3 separate regions of the Homo sapiens genome follow, and regions 2 and 3 are each linked to region 1. Evidence: fine-mapped expression QTL. A gene starts in region 1. Each other region holds a variant in brackets. All regions are shown on one strand. Distances are from middle to middle.

Evidence for each region. PIP is the estimated chance that this variant, and not a neighbour inherited with it, causes the effect. A credible set is the group of variants that fine-mapping cannot tell apart.
Region 2: its variant is the best candidate, but not a certain one, in a credible set for the expression of FBXL16 in whole blood (TOPMed, PIP 0.65).
Region 3: its variant is the best candidate, but not a certain one, in a credible set for the expression of FBXL16 in lung (TOPMed, PIP 0.74).

The regions. Positions count from the first base shown.
Region 1 is chr16:703,545-707,572 of GRCh38, reverse strand. It overlaps FBXL16 (F-box and leucine rich repeat protein 16), which reads left to right and starts at 1,772. Exons shown (of 6, transcript NM_153350.4): 1 at 1,772-2,061. RefSeq lists enhancers at 1-566, 567-1,183 and a silencer at 472-688.
Region 2 is chr16:596,152-600,179 of GRCh38, reverse strand. All of the region lies in intron 1 of RAB40C (RAB40C, member RAS oncogene family), which reads right to left. Among named protein-coding and RNA genes, the nearest start is that of RAB40C, 8.1 kb to the right of the region's middle. RefSeq lists an enhancer at 98-599. The variant T/C (reference allele first, on the strand shown) is at 1,778.
Region 3 is chr16:758,373-762,400 of GRCh38, reverse strand. MSLN (mesothelin) reads right to left here and starts at 1,667. Exons shown (of 18, transcript NM_005823.6): 1 at 1,580-1,667; 2 at 1,227-1,328. RefSeq lists enhancers at 1,711-1,729, 1,895-2,420 and promoters at 1,711-1,729, 1,251-1,731, 1,237-3,086. The variant G/T (reference allele first, on the strand shown) is at 1,808.

The DNA.
Region 1 (4,028 bases):
GTGGGTCACCGCTTTGGAGGAGCACGGTTGGCCTTTCTGTGATGATCTTCCACACACTCTTCCCTGCTCAGATTCCCCACAGGCAGGGCTAGCTTCTTGGGCCTCGCCAGGGTTGCATGACCCAAATGCCTGACTCCCACGCTCACCCTATGCACTTGGGGTGTGTCCAGCCCACCCTATGCACTTGGGGTGTGTCCAGCCTGCCCTGTGCGCTTGGGGTGTGTCCGGCTCCAGCCCCAGCTGGGACTCAACACAAGCACAGCTTGTTCTCTGCCTGAGGCCCTGGCACCTGCTGTGGTGAGAGCCCCAGGCACGAGGTGAAACCCTCCTACCGGGAGCAGTCCACGCCTGGGGTGGAAGCTGCTGCCAGAGGGCCAGCCTGCCAGACCATGCACCGGAGACACCCAGATAGGTTGGACCGCCGCTCCCCTGTTGCCCCAACTGTCTTCACGGGGCTCGTCCTGTCTGCCCCACTCCGGGCACCTTCTTTGGTCAGTATCCAGGTACCGGGCAAGACTTACGCAGAAGAGCTGCTGCGCTCACCCCAGGTAGACCCAGTGGCGCCCCCACAGCAAGCACAGAACCACCCCACCCCGGGACCCAGCCAGGGTGCCGTCAGTCTGACCCTCCTTCCCGCTGACCCCAGGCCTCACACCGGCCCCTTCGGCCAGGCTTCCCATCAGGACGCTGGGAACAGCAGCTGGTTTCACTCCTATTGAGATACTCTCAGGAGCCCCATTCAGCCCTGTAGCTCTTTCCCGGTGCAAAGAACCCCTCTGCTCTCCCCACACCTGCTCCCTCCCCCGGCCCTGCTCCCAGGAGACCCCAGGATAGGGCGCCATTGGCCTCCATTCTCCTGCCCTGAGCCTGCTGGGGCGTCTGGGGTCTCCAGCGGTCCCCACCGAGTCCTCCACCTAACCTAGCACGCCCCACCCCTGCCCCGGGCTGCAGCAGCCGCCGCCGCCTCCAGCCTCCAGTTTATTCCCGAGGGAACTTGCCAGGCTCCTCGGATCTTTGCACCCCCATTCCCGAGCCATCCCTCCCTCGCGCCGTGGGGGGGTCTCAGCTCCAGTGGGGCACCCTCAGGAAGCCCCCGCCAGAAGTCACCACCGCAAGCCCTCGGGTGCTTTCACTGTCACTGTCTGAACTGATCCGTGCAGTCACTTGTTTTCGCGCTCTGCGGGTGTGCCAGGGTCTCCAATGAGGGGCTTCCGGCCGGGCACGCAGCAGGTGCGCGGGGGGTGTGAGGGCTGTGAAGGGTCCTTGCCGTGGGCTGGGCGGGAGGGTCCAGAGACGGGGGTCTGACCACCCTGTCTCCTCTGGGCCGGGTCTCGCCTTCCTCGCCTCCCCAAGTGGTGGCCAAGGGCCGGGACGCGCGGTGCCGCCCCGGTCCCCATAGGACCCCGGACCCCTGGGCCACCCGCCGGCGCCTGCTCTCCCGCCTCCCCTCGCCCTCCCTTCTGCCTCCCGCGCCCTCCCCGCCCGCCGCGCGCCGGGGTTTGTTATTGTGCGGGTGCCCGCGGCGAGCGGGGCGGGGGCGCGTGCCGGGCCTGGCGCGTGCTCGTGGACGCCGTGCCGGGAGCGCGCCGCGCGCGGGGGCCGGGGCGGGGCGGGGGCGGGGCTCGGCATTCTCGGCGCCCCCGCCCGGGCTCGCGAACCCGGATTGGCTCGCCACGCCGGGAGCGCGCGAGGGCGCGGCGTTTGGTGCCGGGCGGGGGGCGCGCGCGGCGCCGGCGGCGGCCACGGAGGAGCGCGGGGAGGGCGAGGGGAGGAGGAGGCGCCCGCCTGGTTCCCTGCAAAGCGGCCTTATTTATCTGGGCACAGCCTCAGCCTCCCCGGTGGGAGGCTTGGGGCGGCCGATCCTCTCCCACCGGGGAGCTCCTTTCCGTGCGCTGCCGAGGGGGCCCGGCCAGGACGGGACGCGGGGCGCAGGGCGCGGCCGGGCCCTGCCGGCCAGTCCAGCACCCCGGCGGCCCCCGCGCGCCGACGCCCATGCCGGGCTCCCCATGACGGGAGGTCGCCCGGCGGACAGCGTGGCATGAGCCAGGAGCCCGGGCCGAGGTAAGGTGCGCGTGCGGCCGGGCTGCGGGGCCGGGAGGGGGCCAGGCCGCACCTCCGCGGCGGCCACAATGAGGAGGGGGCGGGGTGGGGGTGGGGGCCGCGCCGCCGCCGCCCGGGAAGGGCTTACGTAACGGCAGCCCCTTCCCCACCTCCCCCGCGGCCGCTGGGCCTCGGTCCCTGCCTGGCCTTCCCGCAGCCCCGCGCCCCGGCCCCTGGCCCGGAAGAGGGCCGCTCCCCACTGGCCACTCGGCCGGGGCTGGGGGTCCGTGCCTCCTGGGACGCCGAAAGGAGGAATTGTAGGCCCCCGGCCTCCACCCCGGGCGCCTGGTCGGCTCAGAGGGCGCCCCCGGACCGAAGTGACAGGCCAGAGACCGTTAAACTGCATGGGGGTCGCGTGGATGTGCGGCCTGAGGGGCGGCCCTCCCCGGGCGGGCGGCTTCTGGACCCGGGGCCTGCGCTGAGCTACTGCCCGCGGGAGGAGGAGGGTGGGGGGAGGCTGGCACCTTCCTGGTTCTGGAGGCGGGACCGGGCCTTGGCCAAGGTTGGAGGGCCTCAGAAGGGAAACGGCACCTTCAGACCTGCTCGGGAGGGGTCCGGTGTCCTCCTGGGGATTAGGTGGGTGGAGAGCGTTCCCCACCCATCACCTCAGGAGAGAGGGCTGCGGTGGCAGCTTCAGGAACTGACGGCCCAGCGGCCACTCCAGGCCCTTCCCAGGCTCCAGGCTCTGTTCGGGCAGCCTGCCCTCCGCAGGAGGAGCAGATGGCGGAGGCCACCTCACCTGCCTCTTCCTTCAGGCCCTTCCCCCACACCCGTGCATCCGAGGGCCCAATGGCCAGGGGCAGCTCAGGCCTCCCTGGACACAGGGCCGTCTCCCAGCCCACCCCCTCTGTGGGGTGCTGGACAGCAGCCTTGGAGCAGATAGGCCTGGGTCAGGCCAGGAGACTGAAGGGTTTTCTGTCTCCCGGACCAGGGCAGAGGCCTAGTGGAACCTGGCTGGTCTGGCCAGAGGTGGACACAGGGCTGGACCTGGAGCCGCCTGGAGGGGAGGGAAATTCAAGGCCCAGCTGCAAACATCGCTGTGTGGGGGAACCCTAGGACTCACTTGCCCCACTCCCTGCCCCCTGCCACCCCAACTGCCCCTCATCTGGGGCCAGACCCTTGAGTTCAGCCCCTCCATCGACAGACTCACTGCCTCCAGCTCACACCCACTTCCGGGGCGGCTGGACGAGTCCTACCTCCCACTGATGAGAAGGACACAAACAGCTTCCTGTGTGGGAGGCACGGGGCCCTTGAACCAGCTGGACATGGACCCAGGAAGCCTTGTGTTGCTGAGAGTTAGGGATCTCCCACCCAGGTGGCACTGTTCAGCCACCCGAAGACCCCATCTCCTTGCATGTGGGCACCCACTGCTGTGCCTCCCATGACTGGATTGGCAGTGAAGGGAGCTCTGTGGGTGAGCAGGTGACTGAGCCTTCCCCACCAGTGGTGCAGGAGGAGTCAACGGCCAAACTGGCTGCAATGTGTGGGTTCAGGCCTCATTCCTTCACTGGGCAGGAAAGAGGGGTGATGGTTAGTGGCAGCTGCCTGGAGCAGTAGGCACTAGGGGCCCAGGCCTCGCCTCTGAGGGTGCTCATGCTCTTCCGAGCAGGGGCTGAGATGAGGCCTGGATCCCAGCACCCACTCCCCAGGGTGTCCAGCTTTCAAGGCTGAGCTGCCCTGGGCTTGACCATGGGCCCTCAGTCTGCTGGGGCAGCAACACGGGTTTCTCTTGAGGCCACGTGCCTGCTGCGCCATGGTGCCCCTCCTCAGAGCCCCTGGTGCACCCCCAGAAGCATCTCAAACTGGGGGCGGGAGAGGAGCTCTGCCGCTGTGCCACGTGCCAAGTGGCAGGGACGCGGGTGTGCCTGCGTCACGGGGCTGCCACGGAATGTGTCAGTCTGCACCCTGTCCCCAATCCCCAGCCACCC
Region 2 (4,028 bases), 110 kb after region 1:
AGGGCATAGCCCAGGACGCAGGTGCCACCTGAAGAGGCTCCAACATCAAGGGGGCCATGGGAGTCCCAAACCAAACAGGAAAGGAGTATGATGCCACAAGGGAACAAAACTTTGCAAATCCACGCTGACTGATGCCACGAGGGAACAAAACCTTGCGAATCCACGCTGACTGATGCCACGAGGGAACAAAACCTTGCGAATCCACGCTGACTGATGCCACGAGGGAACAAAACCTTGCGAATCCACGCTGACTGATGCCACGAGGGAACAAAACCTTGCGAATCCACGCTGACTGATGCCACGAGGGAACAAAACCTTGCGAATCCACGCTGACTGATGCCACGAGGGAACAAAACCTTGCGAATCCACGCTGACTGATGCCACGAGGGAACAAAACCTTGCGAATCCACGCTGACTGATGCCACGAGGGAACAAAACCTTGCGAATCCACGCTGACTGATGCCACGAGGGAACAAAACCTTGCGAATCCACGCTGACTGATGCCACAAGGGAACAAAACCTTGCTGAATCCACGCTGATTAATGCCACGAGGTAACAAAACCTTGCTGAATCCACGCTGACTGATGCCACGAGGGAACAAAACCTTGCTGAATCCACGCTGACAGTAGCGAACACCCACGGGTGTGCATTTTCACGTACATGCCTATCGACAGAAGCAGCCATGGCAGCAGCGCACACGGAGGAGGCACGGCGTGGCCCCAAGGGAAGCTGCCTCCTCCTTGCTGACCTGGTGAAGTGGGTCCTGCTGGCATCAGCTGACCTGGCGGCTCCTCTCAGGCAGGAATCAGGTGGGCGCAAGACTCTGCGGGCAGCCACTAGGGCTGTGGCCGGCCGACACGGGCAGGCATCAGCCTGACACTGCCTTGGCAGAGCCTGAGGACACAGACACCCCTCGGAGCAAAGCTGGTGGCACAGGCAGAGAAGGGTCTCCTGTCAGTGGCAGCTTCGGCCGGGGCCGGGGCCTGGGCTGTGACCATACTCCCCTCCCCTGCAGCAGTGACTTTCTGGACCGAAACACAGCACCTCGGCAACCCTGATCAGTGTCACTGTGTTTGTGTTCAGAGTCCTGAATCCTGATGTCATCTACCCTATTACCGCCCCTCCCAGCTAGGTCTGACACACAGGCTGTACCTGCTGTGCCCAGGTGGCCGACAACGTTGCTGACCAGGAAGTCAGGCGAAAGCCCAGCAGCAGCCGCCGGCCCCGGGCAGGGAAAGCAGCACACAGGCTCCCACCGGGTTACCCACGCTGCTGGAGCTGCTGGAGAGTGCTGTGCTTGACCGCCCGGCCTACACCTTCACTCAGGGTTGACATGAGGTTCTTACATCCGGCCGCTGTACAAACTGTAAAGTACCTGCCCATTTCCAGGACTCAGCTCTTCTCTTCTTCCATCCTCTTTTCTTTATTTTTTATTTTTTGAGACAGGGTCTCACTCTGTCACCCAGGCTGGAACGTAGTGCAACAGTCAGACTCACTGCAGCCACCACCTCCCAGGCTCCAGTGAGTTTCCCACCTCAGCCTCCCAAGTAATTGGGACTACAGACGTGCACCACCACACCCAGCTAATTTTCTTTTTTCTTTTTTTTTTTTTTTTTTTGTGAGACAGAGTCTCGCTCTGTCACCAAGCTGGAGTGCAGTGGCACAATCTCAGCTCTCTGCAACCTCCGCCACCCAGGTTCAAGCAATTCTCCTGCCTCAGCCTCCCAAGTAGTTGGGGCTACAGGTATGCGCCACCACGCCCGGCTAATTTTTGTAT[T/C]TGTATTTGTATTTTTTTTTTTTTTTGAGGTGGAGTCTCGCTCTGTCACCCAGGCTGGAGTCAGTGGCGTGATCTCGGCTCACTGCAAGCTCTGCCTCCTGGATTCACGCCATTCTCGTACCTCAGCCTCCCAAGTAGCTGGGACTACAGGTGCCCGCCACCATGCCCAGCTAATTTTTTGTATTTTTATAGAGACAGGGTTTCACCATGTTAGCCAGGATGGTCTTGATCTCCTGACCTCGTGATCCACCTGCCTTGGCCTCCCAAAGTGCTGGGATTACAAGCGTGAGCCACCATGCCTGGCCAATTTTTGTATTTTTAGTAGAGACGGGGTTTCATCATGTTGGCCAGGATGGTCTCAATCTCTTGACCTCGTGATTCACCCACCTTGGCCTCCCAAAGTGCTGGAATTACAGGTGTGAGCCACTGCACCCGGCCTTTTTTTTTTTTTTTTTTTTTTTTTTTGTAGAGATGGGGTCTCACTGTGTTGCCCAGGCTGGCCTCAAACTCCTGGGCTCCAGCACTCCGCCTACCTCGGCCTCCCAAGGTGCTGAGATTGCAGGTGTGAGCCACCGTGCCCAGCCCTCTGCTCTTTTCCAAAGATGCTGAGCTGGGCTGGGCACAGTGGCTCATGCCTGTAATTCCACCAACTTTGGGAAGCTGAGGCGGGCGGATTGCTTGAAGTCAGAAGTTCAAGACCAGCCTGGCCAACACAGCAAAACCTCTGTCTCTACTAAAAATGTAAAAAATTAGCCAGGTGTGGTGGTGCATGCCTGTAATCCCAGCTACTCAGGAGGCCAAGGCAGGAGAATCGCTTGAACCCATGAGGCTCAAGAGGTTGCAGCGAGCCAAGATAGTGCCATCGAACTACACCCTGGGTAACGGAGCAAGACTCTGTCTCAAAAAATAAAAATTAAAAAAAAAAAAAAGATGCTAGATGGCTGTCCCTCTCACAGGATGGGCATGTCTTTCATCAGGGTCAGTTTACACAGCCAGGACCACATCACCCATCCAGGATTCGAATCCTTCCCAGTTTGGTTTGAGGACTGTGTTCACTGTAAAGACGGCGAAGGCTGCTCAGGGGCCGAGTGCTTCTGTTTCCACTCTGCCATCTGGGAATATGGGACCAACTCTTCCCTTCACCCTTTCCACAACTCCAGGCCCCCCAGCACCAAGCCCTCTGTAAGCCATGGTCAGAAGACCCTTCCACATGCCCCTGCCACCACCCACCTCATCACCAGCACTAGAACCTGGCTGCTCCTGAGCCCCTCCCATCCCATCTTGCCTGGACCACCTCCCCCTGCTACCTACATGTGCAGCACCCTGGCGGTGTCTGGTCGTGCCCTGGTCTTCCGCCCCATACCCATGGGTCCCTACCTCTCCACAGCGCCAATGCCCTTGTCCCTCCGCTAATTTCTGAAGGACAAACGTCCAGAAATCTCTGCTTTACTCAAAATCCTGATCTCAGCACGAGACAGCCGCGCACTGCCTGTATCAGAGTGCGCCGCCATCCCCAGGTCGGCTCAGAAGCCTCCTCGCTACCTTAGGCTCAAAGTGCGAGTCCACCCTGCTGACATCTGTTTACCTTCACTGCCAAGAGGACTGAAGAGGCCCCTCTTCCACCCAGCTCCTGCCCTGAGGATGCCCACAGCCCATGGTCTTGGCAGCCAGTCCTTCTTCCCACAGCTGCTCCTCTTCCCACCGCCTTCGTAACTTCTGGTCCCTGACACCCGCCAGTTCCACAGTCTGCACATCCTTCTCCCGACCGCCCAGGAAGTCAGCTCAGCCTGACAAGCAGTCTCCCCGCCTTCTCACAGTGGTTCGGCAGCGTTCTCCGCACCAGGATGCTGGACGCCGACACCTTTCCCTGCTTACTCCAAACGCCCGGCGGATGACACCCTGGCTGACGTGGCCCCTGGGCCCCAGAACGGCCCTCGGTGGGGTGGCATCGTACCATGTGCTGCGCAGGGGAGGACTCAGCTGTGATGCAACCCCTTCCTGCTCTACGCCAGCTCGCAGGGGCTCCAGACCAGGGTAGGCGGCAGCTTTTCAGGGACCAGCAGCTTCGCGCCTTCTCAGCTGCAATCTTCAAATAGAACAAGAGGCAAAAGTACCTGCGAGGACCCAGATCCCTCCCTTGTGTCCTTCCCGCCCACCTCTCAGCTCCCCGATGTGGCTTCCTTCCTGAAACACTGTTCAATTTAGCTCATCGTGCAGGCCACAACACGTGTGCTCGACACGAGTCATCTGT
Region 3 (4,028 bases), 55 kb before region 1:
GAAGGGCAGGGCAGTGTGAGCAGAGCTTAGATCAAGCAACCGGGGCCGCCGCCCACTTGGGCTGGCCTGAGTCTCCCCACTCTCGCACAGGAGGACGAGCAGCCCCGTCGCCTGGATGTGGCTCCCTTCCCTCTCCCCTGCCCTCAGCTGCAGGTGCCTGGGCTTTGTGAACACCCCAGGCTCTGCCAGGCAGACAACACCCTTGAGGCAGGAGGGGCACTGCGGGCACAGAGGCCACCGCCCCTTCCCACCCAGCAGCGTCTTTTTGGGCCACTTGGCCTCTCTGAGCCCATTTTCAGGTGCAGTCCAGGTGGGGCGGGGCTGGGCCAGTGAGCAGCCTGGGGAGCCCCTTGTACTCTCTAGGGTGGGGCCTGTGGGCCACTGTGGGGTGGGGAAGTGGGTGGGGAGACCCTCCCTGAACAAGAATTGTCCTCCTGGGGTAGGGGTGGGGCTCGCAGAAGAGGGAACTGGCTTCTACACTCACCCCTTTCAGGGAGGCCACCATGGCGGAGTAGAATAGAGCTGCCTCCTGAAAACCTTGGCCCAGGCCCGGTGGGTCCACCCACAGCTCAGAAATGGGGGTCACACGCTCATGCTCAGCAGCCCCATCCACAGGCAGAGCCTGCCTGGTCGGCCCGGCCACTGGGGAATGTCGCGGGGAGGCACACAGCCTCCGGGTGACAGACTCTACTCCCCCAGGCCCCAGAGGAAGTGGGGAGGCCCCTGAGGCTCTGAACACCTTGAGAAGGTGGAAGAAAACAGACCCCCCCCACAGCCAGAAAATGGGCAGTGAGTGGGACCCCCAGCCCTTGGGGTGCGTGAAGCCAGGAGGGAAACGTGGCCATCGGATCACAGGGGACCTGGGCACTCCCCACCCCAGCTCCATGTGACCCAAGGACCTCAGCACCTGGGATGGGGGCTCCCCGAGAGCCCGGCCCTTCCTGCTCTGAGGGGCCTCTGCAGGCCATGGGGGGCCCTGGAATCTGCATCCTTTACACCTGCAGGAGAGCTGGGCTGGGGCCGTGGAGGCACCTGCACTGCCTTAGGACTGCCGCTTCCAAACAAATGGGTCTGCGTGTGCCCTGCGGGGTGAAATCTGCGTCCAGCTGAAGCCTGACCATCGCTCTGGTGCTGGAAGCCCGGCCTGGGGCGGCCCCAGTTCTCCAGATGGAAGGTGCAGATTCCATCCACACCACAACAGGAAGAGCTCAAAGGTTGTTACTTACAGATCCCAGGGAGGGAGGCACCGTGGGTCCACCGGTAGCTCTCTGTCCGCGCGTCACAGCAGACGGGAGTGGCCGGCCAGGCAGAAAGAGGAGTGCGTGGCGCTGGCAGCGCCCATGAGGAACAGGACAGCCCCTTTCAGATCGCGGGCCAATGCCCACACGTGGGCCTCTAAAGGGCGATGTGAAAGGGGAAGCCCAGCCCCCAGGCCTCTGAGGCCTTCTGCGCAGTTGGGTAGGGAGCTTTACCCCTAACGCCCGGGCAGCCCCCAGCCCTCCAGGTCCCGAGTGGCCCCTCCCAGGTCTCAGTGGGCCCTGCCCAGGGTAACTCTGATGTGCAGGGTGATTGGCCACACCTGAGCCTCCTCTGCCTCGGTTTCCTCAATTGGGAAGTGGGGGTGGAGAGCCTGGCAGCCTCCCGGGCCGTCAAAGGGAACAAATGACGGCTTTGCCCGGGGCAGCAGGGAGTGGTGGCGCCTCACGCCCCAGGAATGTGTGGGTGGAGACCCCGCACAGGAGCCTTGGACAGGCAGCGGGCCAGGCCTGGGGGAGGAGGGATGCCCAGGAAGGCAAAGCTGCCCTCG[G/T]TGGGCGAGGGTGGGAGCCCGGGCCCAGGTTTCACGGCTGCCCTGGGTGGGTGTGGGGCATGTGTAGGAGCCCGGGCCCAGGTTTCATGGCTTCCCTGGGTGGGTGTGGGGCGTGGGTGGGAGCCTGGGCCCAGGTTTCACGGGATCCCACTCTGATTCTCAGGTGCTGAAACCCAGGGAGCACTGGCCCCCCCAGTCGCAGGTCAGCAGGCTCTGGATGGTGGCCACGCAGCCCAGACAGGACTCCCGGGAGCACAAGCCTGACCCCCAGTGCAGTGTGGGCCTCGCAAGGCTGTGAGCCGTCCGTCTCAGGGCTGTGGGAGCACACAGGTCAGGGAGGCAGGACGGGGCCCAGCTCCAGGCACACGCACACCCCTTTCTCGCAGGGTCGACTGGAACAGAGCTGCCCCCGGGCGCTCTCTGGCCTGGCGAAGTGGGAGCTGTCTTCCCTACGCATCTGGGCTGGCTGCCTGCTGCTGATGGAAGAGCTGCTCCTCCTGACCTGGGGCCACAGAAGCCCCCTCCCTGCCCCTGAAACCCCTCCCAGCATGTCGTGAGCTCTTATCCCCAGTACGGAATCTGCCTCCGCTATGAACACCTGCAAAGGTTTGTGTGCTGAACGGAGGTGTGCGCGGCGGTCATCTCTGGTCTCTCCACAGAGTGGGTTTTCTATCGTGACTCGCGGTGGAATCGGACCTTCACGCACACAGAATTCAGCAAGGCTGCCAGGTGTAAGCGTCAACTTACAAATGTCAAGAAGGGATTAAGGGCCTTTTAAAAACTCCCTTCCGCAGAGAACAACTGAAAAATTCCAGACACTCTTGTAGCAAACCAGTTACCCAAGGGCTCTGGGGAGGGGACAGAAGGCAGCCGGCTTGGGCGGGAACTCACAGGTAAAGGGAGAGGCCAGCTCCGAGTGGCGTTCCCTTTGTGTCCACACAGCTTTGCTCTGAAGGAGCCGCAGGTTGGCTGCGGGGCTGTGAAGTGGCCCAGGCTGCCACGGACACCCACAACTTTCCCGGCCAAAGGCCAAAGGAAACCAAGGAAGGAGCCCAGAATACTCAGGGCCCAGAGCTCGAGGAGAGGCCTGAGCCGGAGGAGCCAAGGAGGCGCCCACGTGCCCAGCTGAGCCCTGAACTGAAGGAGCCGAGGAGGGTCCAGGAAGAGCTCGGAGGGCCCCGTAGACACGGCTGAGCCCTGAACAGGAGCCTCAGAGGGGCCCATGTGCCCGGCTAAGCTCTGAACCAGCCGACTGCAAGCTGCGGACAATGATGAAAACGCGCTGTGGCCAGCCTGGGCTCACCCTTCAGCCAGCACCGTGGGAGGCCGATGCGGGAGGGTCCGTTGAGGCCAGAAGTTCAAGACCAGCCTGGGCAACGTAGTGACACCTCATCTCTATAAAGAATCTTTAAATGAGGCCCTGTGTGGTGGCGCACGCCTGTCATCCCAGCACTTTGGTAGGCCGAGGTGGGCGGATCACCTGAGGTCAGGAGTTCGAGACCAGCCTGGCCAACATGGAGGAACCCCGTTTCTACTAAAAATATGAAAATTAACTGGGCGTGGTGGCACATGCCTGTAATCCTAGTTACTCAGGAGGCTGAGGCAGAAGAATCACTTGAACCCAGGAGGTAGGGGTTGCAGTGAGTCGAGATCACGCCACTGCACTCCAGCCTGGGCAACAGAGCAAGACCCTGTCTCAAAAAAAAAAAAAAAAAAAAAAAAAATGCCGGGCGCAGTGACTCACGCCTGTAATCCCAGCACTTTTGGAGGCCGAGGCAGGCAGATCATGAGGTCAGGAGATCGAGACCATCTTGGCTAACACGGTGAAACCCCGTCTCTACTAAAAATACAAAAAATTAGCCGGGCGTGGTGGCGGGCGCCTGTAGTCCCAGCTACTCGGGAGGCTGAGGCAGGAGAATGGCGTGAACCCGGGAGGCAGAGCTTACAGTGAGCCGAGATGGCACCACTGCACTCCAGCCTGGGCAACAGAGCGAGACTCCATCTCAAAAAAAAAAAAAAAAAAAAAAAAGCCCAGGCGTGGTGGCTCACGCCTGTAATCCCAGCACTTTGGGAGGCCGAGGTGGATCATGAGGTCAAGAGATCAAGACCATCCTGGCCAACATGATGAAACCCCGTCTCTACTGAAAAAAAAAAGAAAGAAAGAAAGAAGAAAAATAAGAATATCTGTGTGATTTTTTTTTTTTCTGAGACGGAGTCTTGC